Regions from separate parts of the Homo sapiens genome. Here all the other regions are linked to region 3. The links come from fine-mapping of genetic effects on gene expression. A gene starts in region 3. Each other region holds a variant in brackets. All regions are shown on one strand. Distances are between the middles of the regions.

Region 1 (8,275 bases), 85 kb after region 3:
GTGAAGAACAACTGTACTGCAAATTTCTCAGTTGTAATCTCGTTCTGCTCTTTAAATATTCAGGTCCATGTGCAAGCTCTGTATAGGGGCTACAGAAAAATCACATCCCATCAAGCCTGAAGCCAAATTTGGTGGGTGAGGGAGAAAGAGCACTATATGCAATGGAAATTATAGACTGGAAATGCCAACTTCACCACTGAAACAAAGAACAGATAATTCTTAATAAGTATACATGATTAGAGTTTCACTTATCATTTGAAAGAATCACAAGAATAGGCCAACTCTAAATTAAGGTACCAGCAAAAGAATTTTCCAGAGTACCTGCCTAGTTTTCAAAATGATTAATGAGACTTTGCTCAGCTGTAATGAACCATCAGCCATCCAGGTAGGGAAACATCTTTCGCTCGCACATTTAATTTCAGTGTTCTTTTGGCTAAGTGGGATCAAGGAAGATCATGGTGGCCGTGAAAGAATGTATCTGTGGGAGAATTCAAGGATTCCTTTTACATGGGCCTTTTGATAACTGAATATGTTTTTTAAAGATTTCATTCAAAACCTCCACATTATTTATTTTTCTTTTGAGAAAATCAACGAAGATATATGAGTTGTTATGGTTGCTAACTAACAACTGGCCTGTTTATTCCAGTAAAACATGATCTATTTCTCTCTCTTTTTTGAGAGATATTAATTTTAAGCACCGACTGGGTCAGAGGACTTTATTTTAAATCCTAGTTTGTCAGAAATTACTGTGTGAACTTGGCTAGTAGTGTAGCCTCTATCAGCCATTTACCTGTAAAATTAAGGCTAGATGCAGTGATAGTAAATGTCCATTTAAGTTCTAAAATGTTCTATTACACTCTGAGATCCTAATGATACAGTTGTGAAGTGGGTGAAGAAACTCACCAAAGAACTGGGATAACTGGCTAGCTATATGCAGGGGATTGAAACTGGACCTGCTCCTTACACCATATACAAAAATCAACTCGAGATAGATTAAAAGACTTAAAACCTAAAACTATAAAAACCCTGGAAGATAACCTAGGAAATACCATTCTGAACACAAGACCTGGCAAAGATTTCATGAAGATGCCAAAAGCAATTGCAACGAAAAAAAAAATTGACAAATGGCACCTAATTAAACCAAAGAGCTTCTGTACAGCAAAAGAAACTGTCAACAGAGTAAACAGACAAGCTACAGAATGGGAGAAAATATTTGCAAACTATACGTCCAACAAAGGTCTAATATCCAGCATCTATAAGAAACTTAAATTTACAAGCAAAAAACAAACAACCCCATTAAAAAGGACATGAACAGACACTTTACAAAAACAGAAATCCATGTGGCCAACAAACATGAAAAAATGCTCAACATCATTAATTATTAGAGAAATGCAAATCAAAACCACATATCATCTCACACCAGTCAGAATGTCTATTATTAAAAAGTCAAAAAATAATAGATGCTGGCAAGGTTGTGGGGAAAAGAGAATGCTTACATGCTACTGGTGGGATTGTAAACAGCCATTGTGGAAAGCAGTTGCTATTTCTCAAAGAACTTAAAACAGAATTACCCGTCGACCTTGCAATCCCGTTACTGGGTATATACCCAAAGGAACAGAAATCATTCTACCATAAAGACACATGCACATGTGTGTTCATCACAGCACTATTCACTGCCCACAGTGAAGACATGGAATCAACCTAAATACTGTTGCGGGAAGTCAGGGACCCCAAACAGAGGGACCGGCTGAAACCATGGCAGAAGAACATGGATAGTGAAGATTTTACGGACATTTATTAGTTCCCCAAATTAATACTTTTGTAATTTCTTATGCCTGTCTTTACTCAATCTCTAAACATAAATTGTAAAGATTTCATGGACACTTATCACTTCCCCAATCAATACCCTTGTGATTTCCTATGCCTGTCTTTACTTTAATCTCTTAATCCTGTCAGCTGAGGAGGATGTATGTCGCCTCAGGACTATGTGATAATTGCATTAACTGCACAAATTGTACAGCATGTGTGTTTGAGCAATATGAAATGTGGGCACCTTGAAAAAAGAACAGGATAACAGCAATTGTTCAGGGAATAAGAGAGAGAAACTTAAACTCTGACTGCCGGTGAGCCGGGCAGAACAGAGCCATATTTCTCTTCCTTCAAAAGCAAATGGGAGAAATATCGCTGAATTCTTTTTCTCAGCAGGGGATATCCCTGAGAAAGAGAATGTGCAGCTAGGGTTAGGTCTCTGAACTTGAACTGGCCCCCCGGGGCGTACCTGTCTCTTATGGTTGAGACTGCAGGGGTGAAATAAACTTGTCTCCCATAGCGCTCCCAGGCTTATTAGGAAGAGGAAATTCTCACCTAATAAATTTTGGTCACACTGGTTGATCTCAAAACCCTGTCTCCTGATAAGATGTTTTATCAATGACAATGGTGCCCGAAACTTCATTAGCAATTTTAATTTCGCCTGGCAGCTGTGGTCCTGTGATCTCGCCCTGCCTCCACTTGCCTTGTGATATTCTATTACCCTGTTAAGTACTTGATGTCTGTCACCGACACCTATTCGCGCACTCCCTCCCCTTTTGAAAACCCCTAATAAAAACTTGCTGGTTTTTGTGGCTTGTGGGGCATCATGGATCCTACCAACGTGTGATGTCTCCCCCGGACGCCCAGCTTTAAAATTTCTCTCTTTTGTACTCTGTCCCTTTATTTCTCAAGCCAGCCGATGCTTAGGGAAACTAGAAAAGAACCTACGTGATTATCGGGGCAGGTCCCCTGAAAAAATACCCATCAATGGCAGACTGGATAAAGAAAATGTGGTACATATACACCATGGAATACTATGCAGCCATAAAAAAGAATGAGATCATGTTCTTTGCAGTAACACTGATGGAGCTGGAGGCCATCATCCTTAGCAAACTAACACAGGAACAGAAAACCAAATACCACATGTTCTCACTTACAAGTAGGATCTAAACACTGAGTACACAAAGACACAAAAAAGGAAGCAACAGGCACTGGGGCCTGCATGAGGGTGGAGGGTAGGAGCAGGTTGAGGATCAAAAAACTACCAAACTACCTATCAGGTACTATGCTTATTACCTGGGTGACAAAATAATTTGTAAACCAAACCCCCACTATATGGAATTTATCTCTATAATAAACCTGTACGTGTACCCTTGAACCTAAGGTTTTTTTTTTCTTTTAAAAGAAACTCATTAAAGAGTTTCCAACAAGTCATAGGCCCAAGGTCCACACAGTGACAAAAATCTCTGAGCCAGTCTGAAAGGCCTAGATGAGATATTTGAATATTCCCTGCAGTAAAATCACCTTTTAACCAAGGTTTAGGCCATTATTTGGATGCTTCATAAAATGATTTAAATCAGAGTTTATTCATTGCCTCCTGGTAAGTTCACAAGTGACTGAGAAATCCTTTCATGGTAAAATTATGAGAGAAATGACACATCTTTGTGGCTGTTTTAAGCTCATAAGTGGTTATAAGGTTGTAGAAAAGAAAAAAAGAACATCTCGCAAAAAAAAAAAAAAAAGTGGTCTGACAACTCAAGTTGAAGTTGTTCACATTAATGCACAAGTTTAAGAGGAAAAAAACCTCAGAATCAGATGTTCAGATTATTCAGTGTTTACATGATCAGAGCCCTGACTCATTCCCATTCTTTTGGGGGATATTTTAAAGGAAAAAAAAATGGCAAGAGAAATAATCTAAAATACATTCACACCCATAAAAGAATTTGCTACAGAGAGATCTGCGCCTTCTTCATGGAACTTGCTGTGTCTTTTCCAGTTGAAAGCAGAAAACAGTAAGCATACTTTGACTCACTCATCTAAACCTTCTGAGAAGCATAATTATCTAGCTACCTTTTAAATAACACCCATTACAGAGCTGTGCACACAGTTGGTGCTTAATCAATAGTTTCCAACTGAATCAACTGGCTGAAGCTGAGGTTCCCATGTTCTCCCTTAGTAACTTGTTTCCCTGGAAATTTAACCTTAAACTCATATAAAACAAACTCACTCGAGCTCAAAGTCCACTGTTCCTTTTTGTGATTTCTCAGTTGTAGTTAAGCTAGTTTTTCCTTTAAAGCAAAAGCAATGTTGATTTTTTTGAGTCTGTTTTCTCAAATTGAGATCATTTTGATTTCCATAAGTTGCTTTACTAAACTTAGCCTTAGGTGCAAATTCATTGATATAGACCATGGGCATTAGTGACCTCCATGTACTCGCCCCAAGACAGACCCCTCTGGCAATCCAGGTGATATGCTCCATTCAGATGTACCTGGTGCCCCTGAATTCCAACTGCTAATTGTGGAAAGTCTTTTAATCAAGTCTCTTATAGCTGTGACAGTCCCTTTACACAAGTGCAAGAATCATGACCTAAAGACCTGTGTGGCAACTGTAGGCTCAGTGGAATTGTGGAAAAGGTCCTTTACGCTCATCCAACACTGCGTGTGCTTCTCTATGTTTTCCACACTCCCTTGAAGTGAGATTGGGTTCTGATGAATGGACTGTGAGCAGAAGTGATGTGTGTGCCTCCTCTGCCTGCTCTTCCCTTGCTATTGAGATTGGAGTCATGTGTTCTAGAAGCATGTAATGGCTATCTGACGGATCAAGGCTACCAGATCCACATTAGGCTTAACTCCAGTGAGAAATAAACCTTTGCTGCTTTAGGTGACTGGGATTTAGGATTTTCCTGTTAGGGCAACTAGCATTACTTATTCCTTTTTTTTTTTTTTTTTTTTGAGACAGAATCTCACTCTGTTGCCCAGACCGGAGGAGTGCAGTGGTGCAAACTCAGCTCATTGCAACCTCCATCTCCTGGGTTCAAGCGATTCTCCTGCCTCAGCTTCCCAAGTAGCTGGGACTACAGGCCTGTGCCACCACACCTGGCTAGGTTTTTTTTTTTTT[G/TG]CATTTTTAGTAGAGATGGGGTTTTACCTTGTTGGCCAGGCTGGTCTTGAACTCCTGATATCAAGTGATCCACCTGCCCCGGCCTCCCAAAATGCTGGGATTACAGGTGTGAGCCACTGCGCCCACCCAGCATTACTTTTTCTAATAAGAGTCGAGCATGATACAGTATTCAGACTCACCAGGAGAGGGAAGGAACTAGCATTCATTATCTACTACAGTTGAAAGTCTTACTCATTTGGTGCTCTGGATGACCTTGTGTGGGAGGTCCGTTTTACAGATGTGGAAACTAAGGCTTGACAGGGGCCCAGCTAGTAAGTGGTGAAGAGCTTTCAAGCTCAGGTCCAGCTCCAAAGTCTTTGATTTCTCTTCTTACTAGCCCATTGCTTCTCAAACTTTAGTGTGCATCAGAATCATGCTGGTTAAAATGCAGATTCCTGCACGCCACCTCCCACCCGGCCCAAGAATTTCTGATTCTGGGTCTGGGGTGGGGCCTGAGAATATGCATTTTCAACAAATTCCCAGGGGATGCTGATGCCATTAGCCCAAGGGCCACACCAGGAGAACCACTGCATTGGACCTCTGTTCCCCACATTGCAACAGGCACAGGTATTACTGAAATGCAATAAAAAAGCCCAGTTAAGCCCGAGATAGAAGAACATCTCCTTTCCTCTTCTTCATTCCATGCCTTATCTCTCCCTTGAGTACATTTGCACATAGCTTGACCCACTGCCACTGTGGAACTCTACAGTCCACCAAGATACCTACCAAACCACAGGTCCTTGGGAGGGAAGCTCTGTTCAACATAAAAACTCAACCAAACTACACATTTTTTCCAGTGGGTTTGCCAGAAATAGGAAAACCCTGGATTTAGAAGATGTGCTTCTCTTTGCCCTTTATCATCTCTGAGATCATTGGTTCAGTTTCCTCATCTACAGAATGGGATTCCCAGTAGCGGCCACCTTGCAGGGTTGCATGGAGATTATTAGATGAGGTGCTGATGGGGAAACACTTTATCTACAGCAACAGGCTTTAAAGTTATAAATGGCACGTATCAGGGACCTTCGCCCTGAGAGGTCTTTAAATGTAGATGGATTGATTCTTCTTTCACTTAGCCAAATATCCTGGCTGGGTACAGTGGTTCATGCCCGTAATCCCAGCTCTTTAGGAGGCTGAGGTGGGCGGATCACTTGAGTCCAGGAGTTTGAGACCAGCCCAACCAACAGGTCAAAACCCCATTTCTACTAAAAATACAAAAATTAGCCAGGTGTGGTGGCACACTCCTGTAGTCCCAGCTACTTGGGAGGCTGAGGCACGACAATCACTTGAACCTGGGGCGGGTGGAGGTTGCAGTGAGCCAAGATTGCGCCACTGCACTCCAGCCTGGGCAACAAAGTCAGACTCCATCTCAAAACAAAACAAAACAAAACAAAAAAACAACAACAAAAAAAAACCCACAACGAATATCCTAAGAAACACAGCCTTTCTTCTGCCTTCTGCTTAGATTAACAAACAAGAACAATCATTACAGATTAGGGGAAAATCACCTGAGAACAAAAAGTTGCTGTGAGTAATAAACAGCCCAGTCTTTGAAGCTTCCTCTTCATCTACCCTAAGAAGAGCCTCTTAAAATGTGACCATGCAGCCCAGAAGATTCATCCATTCCCTGCTTAGTCTGCAGTTGAGTATAGCTGTGCTCTCCCCACCCCCTGCACCCAAAATTTGAAATGCTGCTGGAATAATCAGTTGTTTAAAAAAGCTATGAAATATAAAACAAAGTAAGACTCACAACCTCCAAGAATGGCCACTTTTTTTTTTTTTTAAAGAAACTTTGCAAGTTTAAACACTAAGATCGATTGTGTTCCCACTGGGTAAAAGGCAGCTCTTTGTCCACCACACTTACTGTATCACTGAAAAATGTACAGACTGCCGGGGCAGCCGCAAGTCACAGATGCAGAGAACTAACGGTGCTCTCCAAGATGTGGCTCTGCTCCTCAACATGCGGTACTGGGCTTGCAGACGGGGCCTCCTCTCCTCCTGACACACAGGCATGGACATACACACAGAGTCGAGGCTCAGAAACTCTGTCCTAGCAACAGGATGTCAAGAGTTCAGTCTTTGCTGTAGCTCTTAACAGCTAGAGGCTGGGTAAGAGGGCAAGAGGCCATGCAGATCCCTGCAAGGGCTCTGAGACATGTTCAATGGCTGTAGGTCCCTGTGATGGCTGTGACCCATGGCTCAATGCCAGAACCTCTACATGTGTGGTTTTGAAGTTTTATTCTACCTCCTTCCAATGCGTCTTGCTCAAGTCTTCTTATCCAGACAGCTTTCTCACCTTCCATTGATTTTTTTTTTAAATAAGCCCCAGCGAACATGTGGTTTCTTTAACTTTCTATCAAACAGGTAGTGCTATAGCCTGAGCTCATCTGAGCACCTTTCAGAAGATGTCAGCATTCCCAAAGAGCTCTCAAAAAGGATTTTCTATTGCGTGCAGTGAGTTCATAAAAGATGTCAAATTACCTGAAAGCAGCTTAGCTACACGAAGTCCACGCATTTGTGGTACAAATGTTGTAGAACTCAATAAATACATTCAAGTTATGCTCACCCTGACCTGACTTGCTCCCAACACACAATTTCAGTTTGGTGACTGGCGTCTTCCTTCAGTTTTATGGGAGGTCTCAGAATCCTCCCAGTTTTATGGGAAGTCTCCCTGGCCTGAGCCACCCCCACCCAGGCTTTGTGGATCTGAAGATGAGCGAATACCAGGGCGGTCTTTCCGTTTCTCTCCTGTGCCCCCTAAGCTGTGCCCCACTCCCTGCTCCTCCACAGCTGAGATGAAGATGAGGATGAGGAGGAGGATGATGATGGTGATGATAATGGCGCACAACCTCAAGGGCTAGGCCTACAAGCATGGCCTCTAAAACTTCACTCCAGTCTATTTTCCTTCCTTTTTTCTTTGGAGTGGTAATTCACAGTGACACGTATCCAGGGACACTAAGTAAGTCCAAGTTGAATTGACATCATAGAGCCTTTTATTGTTATTCCTATTTTTAGAAAGTGTTTCTGCAGCAGAAGAAATTACCTAGCCAGGGGAGATGCCAGCTCACACTCAGCATTAGTCCTTAGATTCCTGGGGAGACACTATTTGGCACTTTGGAGCTAGGTGTCGGTGTGTCAGACTCACCGCACCAATTTTCCCCAACCATAAACACTACCCAAACTACATTTAGAAGTCAAGATTACTGTATTTTATTGCCTGTGCTACAAGCATAAAAAATGGATTTCAATTTTCTCTCTTGAACACCGTACCATGATTTAAAGCAGCGCATAATCCTTGGTACATATTATTTCA
Region 2 (8,275 bases), 120 kb after region 3:
CGAGTTTCCCACATTTGGGAAAATCGCAGGGGTCAGCATATCCGGAGTGCGATGGATAAGCCTCGCCCTGGGAAAACCACCTTCGTGATCATGGTATCTCCACTGCCAGGTAAGTATGCAAAAGCCTGTTTCTATAATTGAGACAGTTTGTAACAAAACATTGATCATAAAAGTAAGATATTTTTCTATTTCAAAGATTAGAGTAACTTTTAATGAAACCCACTCCATAAATAGTTTCAGAATACTTCCTACATGACAGGTACTATGGCAGATTGTGGCCCATTTGTGCTGCTATAATAAAATACCCAAGACTGGGTAATTTAAGAAGAACAGAAATGTATTTCCTCACAGTTGTCGGGGCTGGAAAGTCCAAGATCAAGGCGCTGGCAGGTTTGGCTGTCTGGTGAGGGCTGCAGCCTCTGGCTGGGAGAAACGCGGCACGCTCACATGGTGGAAGGCCAAGAGGGCTTTATGCTGCTGTGTGAAGTCCAGTTCACAAGGGTCTTAATGTCGTTCATGAGGGAGGAGCCCTCATGGCCTAATCACCTTTTCAAAGCCCCACTTGTTAATACTAAGACATTGGCCATTAAGTTTCAACTCCTGAATTTTGGAGGAGAGACACTCAAACCATAGCAAATGGGGAGACAAGGATGGTTCCCATCCACATTAAAGAGAGAATATACAGAGAAACACATAACCTGTTGCAAGTATGCAAAAGGGGTGTGTGCAGGAGGGCAGAGCTCTGTATGGGAATCTGAGAAGGGATCACAGAGGACCTGGTATTTTAATGTCTTGAAGAACAAGAATTTTTCTTTGTGAAAGAAGCTGCTCTGGGTGGTAGAGGACAGGATGTAAGAGAGTGCATTCCAAACAGAGGGAACAGTTCAAATTGTTAGAATAAAGAAAATATAAAAGGTTAAAGACCACTAATACTGCTTAATATTTATATAACATATGCCTTGTGAGAACTCAATCCATCAATAGGAAGCAGATTAATAAGTGAAAGAATATCACTGCAGCTATGAGAGGCTCTCCATTCATTCAGTTATTCTTTCACTCACTCACTCACTCACTCACTCACTCAAACCTATAAGCCAGGCCCTGTTGTAGGCACTCTGGATACAGCCATGAACAAAACAGTTCCTGCCCTTGTGGACTGTATGTTCTATTAGGTGAGAAGAGCAACAAACCGAATGAAAGGCAAATGACACAAAACGTTAGATGGTGAAAAATGCTTTGATAGGAATAAAAGGAGCTGGGGAACAGGCTGTGTTGCGAGGAGGGTTGCAATATTGAACGGGAAGGGCCTCATTGAGGATGTGACATTTGAGTAGAGACCCGAGGCAGGTGAGTGTAGGAGCCCTGAGGATATTTGAGGGAAGGGCAGTCCGTCCAGGGGAACAGCCAGTGCCAAGGCCCCGTCAGGAGGTGTCCGGCACGTCCGAGAATGTCCGAGAATGTGCGAGAATGGTGGGAAGGCCGCTGTGTGAGGGAGGAGGGAGCAACAGAGAGGGGAGCTGATGAAGCGAGGGAGACCACAGGGGCAGTCCGTTAATACTCAGGTTTCAACCCTGAATTTTGGAGAAGAGACGCTCAAACCATAGCAGATGAGGAGACAAGGATGGTTCCTGTCCACATTAAAGACAGAATATAGAGAGAAACACATAACCTGATGCAAGTATGCAAAAGGGGTGTGTGCAGGAGGGCAGAGATCTGTACCAGAATCTGAGAAGGGGTCACAGAGGACCTGGTATTTTAATAATGTCTTGAAGAGTAAGTAGATTTTTCTTTGCAAAAGAACTTGGAGTGGGTGTGGGCTTCTGGGCCATGGGGAGGATTTTGCTTTTTACTCTTAGTGAGTTGGACAGCGACAGAAGCATTTTGGGCACAGACATTGTTAAGAGCTGAGCAGTGTCCCCAGATAAATTCATATGTTGAAGTCCTAAGTCCCAGTGCCTCAGAATGTGACTGTATTTGGAAGTAGGGTCTTTAAAGAGGTGAGGGAGTTACAATGATGTCAGTGGTGTGGGCCCTAATCCACTATCACTGGTGTCCTTATAAGCAGAGATGAGGAACAACCACACACAGAGGGAAGACCACGTGAGGACACAGAGAGAAGACACCACCTACAAGCCAAGAAGAGAGTCCCCAGGAGAAACCAACCCTGTTGGCACCTTGATCTCGGACTTCTAGCGTCCAGAACTGAAAGACAATAAATTTCTGTCATCTAAGTCACGCATTGTGTGTGTGTGTGTGTTTTTAAATGGCAGTCCTTGCAGACAAAGACAGTCACGATCTGACTTTCCTCAAACCCTGTCTCTTTTGCTGTTGTAGTGGGGATGGGCTGCAGAGCAGGTGTGGACACAGAAGAACAGGTGGGAGAAACTGCAGTAAGCCAGGCAAGGCCGACTGAGGCTCAGGCAGGAGAAGAAGGAGCATGTAGAAGTGTTGGTCTTATCCCTGTGTATGTACAGTGTGGACCAGACAGGATTTGCGGACAGTCAGATGTGGGGAACCAGAGAAAGGAAGGGGTCAAGGGTGACTCCAGGTCTTTGGCATGAGCGACTGAAAGTGTGAAGTTGCCTTTAATTGAGAAGGGAAAGACTTCTTTAAAGTGCATTCCATTAAGAATCTTCCTAAAATTCCTTCAGGGTCCACATGGATCCACATTCCACCTTCATTTTACTAATAGGAGACTGGAACACAGAGATCAGCCGAATTAAGATCAGAAAGAAACGGCGTCCTGATTAGGACTTTACATCTGACTTCTAGGATTGATGCCAACTAGATCACGGAGCTTACTGCAGATATTAAAAATAAAAACACTGCATCATCTTTGAAATGATAACAAAGGCATAAAAATGATATAATGGACTTTGGGGACTCAGGGGGAGGGGTGGGAGGCTGGTGAGGGATAAAAGACTACACACTGGGTACAGTGTACACTGCTCGGGTGATGGGTGCACCCAAACCTCAGAAATCACCACTAAAGAACTTATCCATGTAACCAAAAACCACCTGTTTCCCAAAAACGATTGAAATAAAAATAAAAATAAACAAATAAAAAGTTGTTCCACAACAGGGTCACTAAATAATCATGAATTCAACTCTTTAATGACTTTAAGAAAAGCTTGTTTCTTAAGAACAAGAGTAAAGGCTAGCAAAGATTTAAGTACAAAAATGGGGAAAAAATGCAGTGTTATTTATTAGAATGGAAAGTTGAGGGGAAATCTCAATGCAAAAAAAAAAAAAAAAAAAAAAGAAATGATAAACCATCATCTTCCAAAAGATGTGGCTCACCAGGGTGAGGGGAATGAAGATAATCTAATTTGAGGAAACTTACCCAAACAAACAGACTTACCCAAACCATTCTAGGGTCACTGAAGACAAATTTTCCATGCTGGCTAATGTTCAATACCATTTGCTTACTGTGTGACATGCAATAACCCCACTGATTTGGATTCATTAAATAATCTGATCCTTACAAATGACCCTAATGAGGCTGCTGGCATTATGATTATTTTTATTTTACAGATAAGGCATGAAAATCAAAAAGAGGTTGAGCCATACGCTTTGGGTCACACAGCTAATACGTGGTGTGTCTAAGACTCAAACTCCGGCAGTTAATTCTGGAACCCACACACTTTGTCCTGAAGTAGGGGTGTGTGATGCCACCAGCTCGGACCCCACTGCCTAGGGCAACCCTGTGATTTTGAATAAATATGACCCTTTAAATTTGCTTCAAGTGGATTCTAGCTCCTTCCCCCAAATCTTGTGAGCCAAAGCTGTAAATAACCACGCCATTGTTTAGTGCCATCAAGCAGGCTTAGGCAAGGTAGTGTCTAAGAACTTCTCTGCAGGTGTGTGCCATGGCTTACACCTGTAATGCCAGAAATTTGGGAGGCTGAGGCAGGATGATCACTTTAGACTATGAGTTCGATGCCAGTTTGGGCAACATGGCAAAACCCCATCTCTACAAAAACTATAATAAAAAAAAATTAACTGGGCATGGTGGCGTGCACCCGTGATCCCAGCTACTCAGGAGGCTGAGGTGGGAGAATTGCTTGAGCCTGGAAGGTCGAGACCGCAGAGAGACATGATCATGCCACTGCACTACAGCCTGGGTGCCAGAGTGAGATGCTGTCTCAAAAATAAAAAATATAAATAAAAAGTAACTTCTCCATATAAATCAGAGCAGATTTGGTATAATCTCAGGGGAACACGAACAAGATGGTATAAGATCTAGAGAAGTCCTTAAATGAAGGGAATGGTAGCTATCTTCAAAGATTTAAAAGCCTTTTACAGGAAAGGAAGATTAGAAATAAGATCGGGAAGGGGCAGATACAAATTTCAGTAAGTAAAACTTTTAATAGAGAGGGAACTTTCTAACAGTCAGACCTTCTTGACAATGAAGCAGGCTATGTTGGGACCTGGGGAACGTCCTGTTGGAGCAGAGACCAGAGGATAAATGGTCAGGAACACTGCTGTGAGCAGGGGCTTGGTGGCCTGGATGGTCTTCAAGGCCCCTTTCATTGATAAGATGACTTGTGCAAATGTATGGTCCAGTGTCAGGCATTGATGC[T/C]GTTTAATTCACCATTCAACTTTGTATATTACCTATAACTTTTTCATCAGGATCAGACTGTCCATCTGGACCGATGGCCTATGGTGTGACATTCTTTGAGATTTCAGGGGGCAGCAATGGCCCAAACAGGGGGTCGGTCCAAGGAACTTTAAAGGCAGGATGCCTGAGTGTTTGGTAATGCCTCTCCCTTCTTGCAGAGTTTTTTGGGGTCACTGGAAATTGCCAGGAGGATAGAGAAATGATTCTTTCTTTCTGTATAAAACTTGGTTAGAACAAGAATGAAATCATGTTGACAGGCAACAGGGAGAATTTTTAGGCAGTAAAAATCAGGGGGAAATCACCCAAGACAGCTGGTGATTCCCTCCCTACACTGAAAAGTGTGGCCTGTGACCTTGGCCTATTTTGAGATTCTTCCTGGAGATGACTGGAGACACACAGAAAAATCTCTCCAATCTTTGTTTGGGAAGAGGGCCTCTGGGATGGTCTTTGTTTGGGAAGAGGGCCTCTCTTTCTCTGGGGTGGCAATCTTGTCAAACTGATGCATGCATTAATCTCTGCAGCCTGGTTGGTCTGTTAGGACAACCCTATGCTTTGACCTCGAGTGGGAAGTGAGGGAGAAAGAAGGAGGAAATGACTCTGAGTTGGGACAAAGCGCAGAGACTGCCTTGGCTCTGCTGCCGAGATCATGCTGCATACCCTGCCCCCACCAAAATTCCCTTATCCGACTAGATCTACCCATTGGTCTAAATTAAACTGAAATATCCCGCAAATACCCACAGATATTATAAAACTTGTCAGTTAGCATCTTTAATTGAACCTTTTAATATGGTGTTTTTTTTAAGTGGAAGCATATTTAGCAATATACTATTAACATGCTATCCAAGTATCTTTTCTGATGATTGACGCTCATGAGAGATATGAAAACTTAGTGGGTGCATGTAGACATGGGGTTGGGGGGGTGGGCAGCAATGACGTTGGCTGCTACATGTCCTTAGGAAGCAGCTGTGTGTTAGTACAAAGATCTCTGGACTTGGAGAGGGAAGACCCAGGCTGGAGGCTTAGCCTCTCAACTTACTACCTAGGGTAGTGTTTTCCAAACATCTACAGGGAAGAAACAGTTCTTACTGTTTAGTTCTTTCCATTTTCGATCCATCACAAACTGATGCTTTTGTAAAATATAATACAAATGTAAAAATAATGAAGCCCTTTTTAATGACAAGATTCAACAGACATGAAATTATTCTGTCATATTGCTGTAAGAGTATCTAAAACTTGTTCTCAATGTCTGCACTTACGTGGTTGCAGATGTGAGATAAGCCATTTGTGGGCCACCCTTTGAGAAGGTGGCTTTGGGGAACTTAGTGAACCTCCCTTAGTTTCTCCATCTACTCCGTTTCCGTAGATGATGTGAGGATTAAATAAGATGACAATGACAGTGATGACAATGTGTATGTGTAATAGATTAAAACGTGCCAGCCACATTTTAAATTATTATTGTTCTAATTAATAACAAGAATAGTTGCCAATGACAGCAAGGGGCCAAATTAAGTTTTGTTTTTTTCCTTTTGCAGCAAGGGCAGGTGTTAACACCAAACAATCAAGTCAGAATTCCTAGACACAGCAACCTCCCAGTGAATCACTCCTTTCCCAAATGCAGAATACTCAGCTGACAGGCAGGAGCAGAGAAAGCCACCGAGAGTCAGGAAAACACAACCCGAAGCTCCCGCCTGTGCATCTCGCTTTTAGCTCTCTGGTGATTCGCTGGGACCTCCATACTGCCATTTTCCATCTGTAGGACCCAATGACCAGCAGCCACTACTATGGGACAAGCATTCAGCTCACAGTCAGAGATACCCTTTGCACCTCATAATCATACTTTCTCCTTGTTACACCAGGGCACTCAGTCAAGCAATGTGCCTCAGAGCCCCAGTGGGAAATCCCAGTGCCTTCTTGGATGTGAGGTAGGTGGCGGTGTTTGAATACACACACACACACACACATACACTCATGTGTGTATACACAATCAAGAGTAATTGAGAACCAGTTTGAGAGATCTCCCTATGTGGTGAGGAGTTAGGGTCGTGGCTGCAGGCCTGCCTGTGGGGTCATCTTTGCAGCTCTCCCCGAAGAGCGACTGGAGGCATATTCTGGTGAAAGAGGGAGCTGCCTTGGTAGTGGCCAAATATTAGCCTCACAAGTGCACATAATCAGAGCCTGGGACTCTGCTTCCTCCATCAGCAAGAACAGGGTATACCTTCCCACCTTCCCCAGCCCTCTTGTTTCCCTCCAACACCTGCCAGTCCTCATCTTTTCTTATTTCATATTTTAATTCTTTTGAGTATCATAAAAGTAATATACACAGAATTAAAAAGTACTATAGAAAGATATGAAATATAAAAGTATTTTCTCCCCATTTCACCACACCAGGAATAAATGCTATTAATGACTACGTATACATTTTTCCACAAAACATTAATGCTTATAGAGACACAATATGTGCGTGCATGTGCGTGTGCATGTGTGCATGCATGTGTGTGTGTGTACATGTGTATGTGCGTACACTCACACGTATGCAAAGATGGATATACAGCAGGTCCTTGAATAAGGTCATTTCATTCAATGTCATTTTGCCATAACATTGATGAGAAAAAAAAAACAAACTGATTCCCAGCTGGGGCCATCGTCTGTGTGGAGTCTGCACGTTCTCCCCACGACTGCATGGGTTTTCTCCGTGTACTCAGGTTTCCTCTCACATCCCTAAGATGTATATGTCAGGTGAAATGGCATGTCTACACTGTCCTAGGTCTGAGTGAGTGTGGGTGTGGGTGTGGGTGTAAGTGTGCCCTGTGAGGGGATGATGTCTGACCAGGGCCAGATCTTGCCTTGTGCCTTGGGCTGCTAGGACATGCTCTGGCTAGCCACCACCCGGAACTGGAATAATTGGGTAATCATCTTCTTTGTTTTTATTAACCTTTCTTAAATGTATGTACAGCTCACATTTATTTCAATGTTTAATATTAGAAGTGTTGTGGTCTTTATTTAGAAGTTTGGTGATATTTTTGTGACCAGAAATATGCTATAGGAACTTAAGTCTTGTTTATATCAATTAGTCTATGGTTAAGTTGGTTTTGTTAGATTTTATTTTACTGAAGTTGCAATTTTCACGAACCTACTAATGACACTGAGGACTGTGTGTATATATAAGCATATACATATATACATGAATGTTAGTTTTTCTTTCCGATAAATGTGATTATTCCAGAGCTTTTCAATTGGCAACATTTTTTTTTTCCATGCTTTGACCTTCAGTTTTTTGTCTCATTTTACTTTCAAACATTTTCCCCCAGTGGGGATGACCCCTTGTTCACATTCCTAAGTCATGGTCCAAATCCCTAGGCCCCCCTCCCCAGCCAACCCCTCTCCTCCCGTCCTCCCTCCTGGTGCCCACCTTTACCTTTCCAGCCTCTGCATGGTCATGGCCAGCGTTTTGTTGAGCTCGTCTATCATTCTGCAGCCCGAGGGGTGCATGGGGAGGGAGCCGGTGGTGGAGGGGAGGTGCTGGCCGTGGCTGCCGTACTGCAGCTGGTGCTGGATCTGGGAGGGCAGGACAGTGTGGTGGTGCTGGGCCACACCCTGCTGGCCACTCTTCTGGGCTGTGTAGGACACCAGTGAGAGGTCTGGCCCCCCCACGGG
Region 3 (8,000 bases):
GGCAGAAATATTACAAGAAAGGAGTGATGCCTGTTACAGTGAAGTACACCTGTGAGTTTTACAAGTCTTATTTCAATTAAATTCCACAAAATTTTATTGCCTGACAACTCCATTCTATAATCTGTGTTATGCTAAGAGTCCAGTGACTAATAATGCTGACAGTTCACAACTCAAATATGCAACTGTAAGAACGAATGGCCACCTGTTCACATTGTGTGATAGCCCTTTTCATTTGTTTAGAAGTCTATATTAAGCACTTACTGTGTGCCAGGCGCTGTTCTATGGACTCAGGATACATCAGCTACCGAAGCAAAGATCCCTAACCTTGTGAAACTGACGTTCTGGTGGGAGGACAGATCCAATAAAAACTAAAATAAATAAGTCAGTAATGTAGTGTGTTAAAAAGTGATCGGTGCTGGCCGGGCGCTGTGGCTCAGGCCTGTAATCCCAGCACTTTGGGAGGCCGAGGCGGGTGGATCACTTGAGGTCAGGAGTTTGAGACCAGCCTGGCCGACATGGTGAAACCCCATCTCTATTAAAAATACAAAAAATTAGCTGGGCGCAGTGGCGGGGGCCTGTAATCCCAGCTACTACAGAGGCTGAGGCAGGAGAATCGCTTGAACCCGGGAGGTGAAGGTTACAGTGAGCCAAGGTCGCACCATTGCACTCCAGCCTGGGCAACAAGAGCAAAACTGTCTCAAAAAAAAAAAAAAAAAAAAAATGGGATCATTGCTGTGAAAGAAGGAAAAGGTAGAACTGCATACAGGGGATTGGGATTCAGGTAAAGTGTTGCAATTTTAGGTAGGGTGGGGAAAGTAGCCTCAGGGAGGGGACATTTGATTGAGACTGAGGTAAGTGAGTGGGCCATGTGGCTAGCAGAGGATAATGTGTTTCAGGCAGAGGGAACATGAGAAGGTCCCAAGGCAGGGGAGTCACTCATAGTAGCTGAGACTGAGGTACAAGGAGGTAGACCATGAGAAGTGTTGTAAGCTGTTGTGAGCACTTCAGTTTTTCCTTTGAGAGAAATGGGGAGCCACTGAAGGATTTTTTGCAGAGGGATATTTTTAGATTCATTCTGGCTGCAGAGTTGACAAAAGTCTCAAAGTGTTATCTCTTAGGGAAGCTTCCACATATTCTGTTATCAGCTCATCAAAAAACAGAATGGAGGGCAGTTGAAGGCACCCATATTGCTGTCACCATTCAGTGAACAGCAGTCTTGAAAATTGATTGTATGAATTGGAGTAATCTTCATACCCAGCTAAATTAGAGTCCAGAGATGAGGGAGAAGAGAAAGCAGTTGGGGCACAAAGTGCCTGCCCAGGAATTATATTGAAAGCCAGCTGCCAAGGTGACCTGCTATAACCTGAAGACCAGTTTCACCCAGTAGCTGCTGAAACGAATTGCTGTAACTCTAAGACTAGTTTTACTTACCACCTTCTCTCACAAATTAGAGCTTGCCTGTTCCTAAAAACTTTGCTTAGGGTCAATGAGCTATCTTTCAAGGTAATACATAACATTTCTCTAATGAAACCTCCAACCATCTCTTTGTTGTTCTGAAGACCACCCCAGTCTGTGTGTATGCCCTGAACTGCAATTCTGTTTTCCCAAATAAAATGATTTAGAGACTCATCTTTGCATTTTTAATTGATCTTGACACAGCCAATTCACATATATCCCTACTGTGCCACATGCCAGGCACCATGCCAAGCACTTTACATACTTTCTCATTTAACCCTTCCCACCTTCTATATAATCACCATTGGTGATGATTTTATTTTATTATTAATATTTTTTGAAATGGAATTTCTCTCGTTGCCCAGGCTGGAGTGCGGCGGCACCATCTCAGCTCACTGCAACCTCTGCCTTCCGGGTTCAAGCGATTCTCCTGCCTCAGCCTCCAGAGTAGCTGGGATTACAGGTGTGTGCCATCACACCCAGCTAATTTTGTATTTTTACTAGAGACAGGGTTTCACCATGTTGGCCAGGCTGGTCTCGAACTCCTGACCTCAGGTGATCCGCCTGCCTCGGCTTCCCAAAGTGTTGGGATCATAGGCATGAGCCACGGCGCCCAGCCAGCACCGATCACTTTTTAACACACTACATCATTGACTTATTTATTTTAGTTTTTATTGGATCTGTCCTCCCACCAGAATGTCAGTTTCACAAGGTTAGGGATCTTTGCTTCGGTAGCTGATGTATCCTGAGTCCATAGAACAGCGCCTGCACACAGTAAGTGCCCAGCCCTGGTGATGATTTTAAAGACAAGAAAAGGCAATTATAAAAGTTAGTGACCGGCCCAAGGTTTAGATGAAGTAAATGGAACTTGTGTAAGGTAACTTGAAGAACTCTGCTTACTCATGTGAACACTACCCAAGGAAGGTTTAGTACCCCAGTACTGAGGAACTAAAGATGGTGGTGGTAAGGGAGTGGGGAGGGGCATCAGTGTTTGAGTTCAACCACCACACGTTTCTTCATTTTTAAGTTCTGTCTAGCCATTATACACACATTTGTCTGCACTATAACTGGACTTCTGCACTGTTGATAGTCCTAAGTTTCCTTCAAAGCTTGGCATCCGTGTGGCTTATTTGGTAGAGATTTGAACTTTCAAAGGGACGATACCCATCATTGGGGATTTCTCTCAAACCCTGGCGGTTTAAAAACCTACTTGGGCACTGCTGCTCAGCCAGCCCGAGGACCAGGGAGGCAAGCACAGAAATAGAAAGCATTTGTAAGTGTTAGTAGCTACTTTAAAGAGTAACTCTGTTCTGTTAGACCTACTAATAACAAATTAGGAGCTTGCATTTAGCACATCTTTTTTTAAAAAAAAAACACGTTCATTTTTCTCCTATGTTATAGTGTTTTACCTGAGAGGCTGAATATACTAAGACAATGGCCAAATCTAATATAAAAATAGACCTCCAATCCACAACCTGCAGCAACCTGCCCAGAAAACCAGTCAGTTACCTACAATAACCAACCCAGGGAGCCTGCCTGCTCTAAATCAGACTTGCACTCCTCTGCCTGCCTTTTTTCTTCTCATTCGGATGGTCTTCATCTATTCCCACATACCTGGGGTGGGGAGGAAATTAGCAAAAGCAAAACCCGGGTCCTGCACGCAGGCAGCTTAAGTACGGCCCTAGGGCTCGGGTCTTCCCTAGGCAAGAACCTCGAGGGCCGGACACGGGAGTGCAACCCAGGCACGCGCCTTCGGATGGCCAGAGTAAATGGTCGCGAGATTTTGCGGGGTAGCAAGGGGCCGGGTGCCCACGGCGGGAGAAACTACACTACTCTGGAGGCGAGCCTAGCCCTTCATCCCGTCGGGTTTCACAAACGAAGCCAGAGCTTCCTGGAGTGAGGGTGGAGCTTCCTGCCCGCGCCCTCTGCGCATGCGCCCGCCCGGCGCCCGCCCGGCGACCTGGAGTTGATGTCACGTCCGGCGGCGGCGGCAGCGGCAGCGGCAGCGGCGCTGAGTTTTGTCTCCCGGGCCGTCTGGGCGCGCGCGGGTGTCCCAGGTACCCCGCCGCCTCCCTCCTTCCCGCAGGACTCGTCCCTCCTGGCCCTGGGCCCCAACGGTGCCCGCCTGCCCGGCGGTCGGTCAGCGCACAGGGCACGGCTTCCTCTGCTTCTCCCGGACCACTTAGTCTCAACCCGGGTGTGTTTGCACTACTAGAGGTGAAGCATCCATCATAGAGAGAATGGGACCTGGGGTCTTGGACCAGGGTGTTTTTACTTTTCCCATCAGGTGGACGCGCATGGGCAGGAGATATTATTTGCAGCATTTCCTCCTAGAGGACGCCTTTGTCATTGTAGTGCAATCTAAGAATGGGTGTCCTTAGACAACAGGGACCGACCAAATCGTCATGCAGCTGTTTGGATGCTTTAAAAAAATAAATCCCCACACTCATTACGCGTTTTATGCTGCTGACTTTTTTATTTTTAAGACATCTGCTCCCGAAAGCTCAGAGCCCTTTAGCATTTCATTTTCTAAACGAATCCTAATCTTTCCTGTGACTGAATCGGTTCAGAGGATATCTTTTCAATAAGGAAGGAAGCCCTCCCCTGCTCACTGGGGACGTCGCAGGGTTTTTAAACCTAAAGATTTACTCTTTTGTGCACAGACGCTGGAAGCATTTGGGTGAGGCAGTGCAGTGCTTTTTGGGAAATGCATCAGATCTTTTCTGTTCTTGAAACGCCAAATCTAACTTGGTCTTTTTTTGGATGAATTACCGCCAGTATTATGAAGGTTACTGTGAAGGAACTTGAGACCACTGAACTTTTTGAGTTCTTGCGGTAGATTTTAAATCGTTTTTCCGTCTTCAACTCTGACTTTGGGATCACTGTCAATTGGCTACATTCTTTACCCTCTTCTAGTTATAATTTAATGCGATTTATTTGTTGTGGGTTTTGAATTTCGATAGCTACACTTAATAGAATTGTGTTTAAAAGAAAGATAAGTGAGGAACTCGTGGCTTTTTACTTTTATATAACTTAATTTTTCATTTTACAAAATGCCCATTTAAAAAAAAGTAGCTAAGCAAAAGAAAGGAAATTAAAATCATCTAGAATCCTACTATCTAAAGATAACCATTGCTAACATTTTGGAATAGAGTGTTAAGTTTTAAAATACATGAAATTTGTAAAAAACAAAAAATGAAATCATAGTGTATACTGTTTGAGTATAATTTGCTTGACGTATCTTGCCTGGCTTCCATTTCACTTATTTTTTTTCTTTGCGCATTTATAATAGCTACAGAATGTTCTATTGTGCTAGGCACTCATAGGTATAGTGGGAAACCTAGTGCATAAACCTTGTGCCATCTATTTTATCAGCTCAGAGAACTTTTAACTTATATCTTGGTTTTTAGCCAAGATGCATAGGTGAGATAGTTGCAGAACTGAGTTAAAGGAAAAATTTAATATTGGGTCCTATGCAAGGGTACATCATATTGAAAAGGTGGAGAACATCATTGAAAATTATTCTAATTCTTGACTCTTTGTTTCTAGACTCACTTTTCCCCTTCGTCTTTCTCTCCCTTTCTGTCTTTCTGTGTCTCCTCCAAGAATGAAATATGACTGAGGACTCTCAGAGAAACTTTCGTTCAGTATATTATGAGAAAGTGGGGTTTCGTGGAGTTGAAGAAAAGAAATCATTAGAAATTCTCCTAAAAGATGACCGTCTGGGTGAGTACTTTTAAAAATTAATCTCATTGGTTCTCAATCACTCCACATGTTCTGAAGTAAATATTTTCTTAAAAGACATCCAGAAGCATTGGTTACTTGCTGTATTTTTTAGTGATGTGGTGAAGCAGAATGGTGTATTTTGAGAAAAGATTTTTCAAATTTATATTTCACTGAGCGTCAGAAGTTTTTGAAAGGTTTCTTAAGAAAGTCAGTAGTATTTTTTTCTTTTATTGAACCCATATGTTTTCATGTATTATCTAGGTAAATTTGCTTCTGGGTAAATTTGCGATAACTCTGGTCATGATTTTCTTTTTTTTTTTTTTTGAGACCAAGTCTGACTCTGTTGCCCAGGCTGTAGTGCAGTGGTGTGATCTTGGCTCACAGCAACCTACACTTCCTGGGTTCAAGTGATTCTCCTGCCTCAGCCTCCCAGGTAGCTGGAATTACAGGCATGTGCCACCATGCCTGGCTATTTTTTGTATTTTTAGTAGAGACAGGATTTCACCATGTTGGCCAGGCTGGTCTCAAATTCCTGACCTCAAGTGATCCACCCACCTCGGCCTCCCAAAGTGCTGGGATTACAGGCAGGAGTCACCATGCCCAGCCCATGATTTTCTTTTATGGAAATACTAAGAGTGCATTGTATATTGACATTTTAGTTTGAGCCAGTCTGAATAAGGTCTGTTGTTGACTAAAGTAAAATAAACTGAACCGTAGTTAAAGATAATACTTTATTTGCATAGAGTACTTTTAAAGTTTCTGAAACATTTCTCACCTTATCTTTGATCTTCAATTGTGCGGTCTTTGCTTTAGTATGTCTGGTATTCTCCTTTGATAAGTAGAGGAATTGAGGGTCAGGGAAGTCACTGTAATTTATTGGAAAATGTAGGGATTTGAAGGCAGACTGTACCACTTAATAGCTATGTTAGTTTGATCAAGTCATTTAACTGCTTTGAACTTCAGTTTCTGCATTTTTAGAACAAGAACTACCTAACAGGCTTGCAGTGTGAATTAAATAAACCCTGTGATTAATAACTACCACTGTTATAGGGAATGTAGTAATATATGCAAAATGCATCTCCAATGCTGTAAAATGCAAATTGTTTTTATTTTTATTATTATTTTTAACACAGAGTCTCACTCTTGCCCAGGCTGCAGTGCAGTGGCACGATCTTGGCTCACTGCAACCTCTGCCTCCTGGGTTCAGGCGATCCTTCTGTCTCAGCCTCTTGACTAGCTGGGATCACAGGTGTGTGCCACCATACCCAGCCAATTTTTGTATTTTTAGTAGAGATGGTGTTTTGCCATGTTGGCCAGGCTGGTCCCAAACTCCTGACCTCTAGTGATTTGCCTGCCTCAGCCTCCCAAAGTTCTGGGATTACAGGCATGAGCCACCGTGCCTGGCCGCAAATTGTTTTTAAATAACTTAGTTGGCAGAAGTCTTGGGCTAGAAATCAGACTAGTATTGCCTCTCCTAAACTTACTGACCATATGGTAGACTTCCCCTGAAGAAATGTCTTAACTATTCTTTGAGTTTTAAAAAATGAAATGTGCCTTGACATACTGTGATCAGCATGAAAAGCTTCTAACAATTGTTTTCTTCTTCCTCTAGATACTGAGAAACTTTGTACTTTTAGTCAGAGGTTCCCTCTCCCGTCCATGTACCGTGCATTGGTATGGAAGGTGCTTCTAGGTATGAGACCCAGGAGTTGGAAGATTTATCTTAAAAAATATTGAATGAAGGGATCATTTGCTATCTTATCAGTCAGAAAAAGGAGAATTTGTTTAGGCCTTTTACTGAATATTGGATCTTCCCCAGGAGGTTCAATTACCACTCATTATTTTCTGTTCTATTAATGATACTATAGAAGAGAAAATAGTTTATGTTCCTGAGACAAGATCTGGGAAGAGCATTGGAGTAGGAGAAATGAGAATTGGTTTAGGCTTTGCTATCAGCTGGGTAACCTGGAGGAAGGCGACCCCTCTGGGACTCATTTTTTGCATCTATAAACTGAAGCTTTTGAGCTAAATTACTCCTAGTTTTTAGCTCTAAATTTGTAAGATTTTGTGATTCTCAGCTATAGAGGTATAACTTCCTAATCTGTCAAAGAGGAATTGGAGACTTACTACTCCCTAGAAGTGTGAATGACTAAATTCCAGTGGTGCGAGTGGCTGAGTGAGAAGGAAAACTGATCTTACTTAGTTTCTATGGAAGAAAATGTGAATTAAGTGCCATGAGTAACTGGCAGCATCCCTTTTGAGCCCAAGATTTTCTTTCCCCTATCATTGCTGAGCCTGCTGGAGCATATAATTCCTATCCATTACCATCCTCCTTTTCTTTCTTAAAAAAAGTATTTTTGGCTGGGCGCGGTGGCTCACACCTGGAATCCCAGCACTTTGGGAGGCCAAGGCGGGCAGATCACGCAGTCAGGAGATTGAGACCATCCTGGCCAACAAGGGTGAAACCCCCTCTCTACTAAAAATACAAAAAATCAGCTGGGCATGGTGGCATGCGCCTGTAGTCCCAGCTACCTGGAAGGCTGAGGAAGGAGAATCGCTTGAACCCGGGAGGCAGAGGTTGCAGTGAGACGAGATGGCACCACTGCACTCCAGCCTGGGCGACAGAGCGAGACTCCGTCTCCAAAAAAAAAAACAAAAAACAAACAAAAAAAAACTTACAGTTTGTTCACTGTAAGATAGTGGCGAGTACTAAATTCCCTGAAGAATATAAACTATGATTGCTCCTTATTGGGCATCCCTGTATGCCTGTCAGTAGGCTGAGTAGTTTACATAGATTATACAGAGTAATCCTAGAATCC

What was found.
Region 1: its variant is fine-mapped to the expression of TBC1D7 in neutrophils (BLUEPRINT, PIP 0.95).
Region 2: its variant is fine-mapped to the expression of TBC1D7 in whole blood (INTERVAL, PIP 0.97).

Annotation. Positions count from the first base shown.
Region 1 is chr6:13,238,521-13,246,795 of GRCh38, reverse strand. All of the region lies in intron 10 of PHACTR1 (phosphatase and actin regulator 1), which reads right to left. Among named protein-coding and RNA genes, the nearest start is that of TBC1D7, 86 kb to the left of the region's middle. The variant G/TG (reference allele first, on the strand shown) is at 4,927.
Region 2 is chr6:13,205,898-13,214,172 of GRCh38, reverse strand. PHACTR1 (phosphatase and actin regulator 1) reads right to left here. Exons shown (of 15, transcript NM_030948.6): 8 at 8,037-8,275. It also overlaps the pseudogene RNU1-11P. Among named protein-coding and RNA genes, the nearest start is that of TBC1D7, 120 kb to the left of the region's middle. The variant T/C (reference allele first, on the strand shown) is at 4,583.
Region 3 is chr6:13,323,968-13,331,967 of GRCh38, reverse strand. It overlaps TBC1D7 (TBC1 domain family member 7), which reads left to right and starts at 3,431. Exons shown (of 8, transcript NM_016495.6): 1 at 3,431-3,672; 2 at 5,062-5,181; 3 at 6,794-6,874. The coding sequence starts at 5,070. TBC1D7-LOC100130357 (TBC1D7-LOC100130357 readthrough) reads left to right here and starts at 3,431. Exons shown (of 9, transcript NM_001318809.2): 1 at 3,431-3,512; 2 at 5,062-5,181; 3 at 6,794-6,874. The coding sequence starts at 5,070. LOC124901261 (a long non-coding RNA gene) reads right to left here and starts at 3,353. Exons shown (of 2, transcript XR_007059457.1): 1 at 3,070-3,353; 2 at 2,111-2,243. RefSeq lists an enhancer at 3,086-3,592 and a silencer at 3,226-3,615.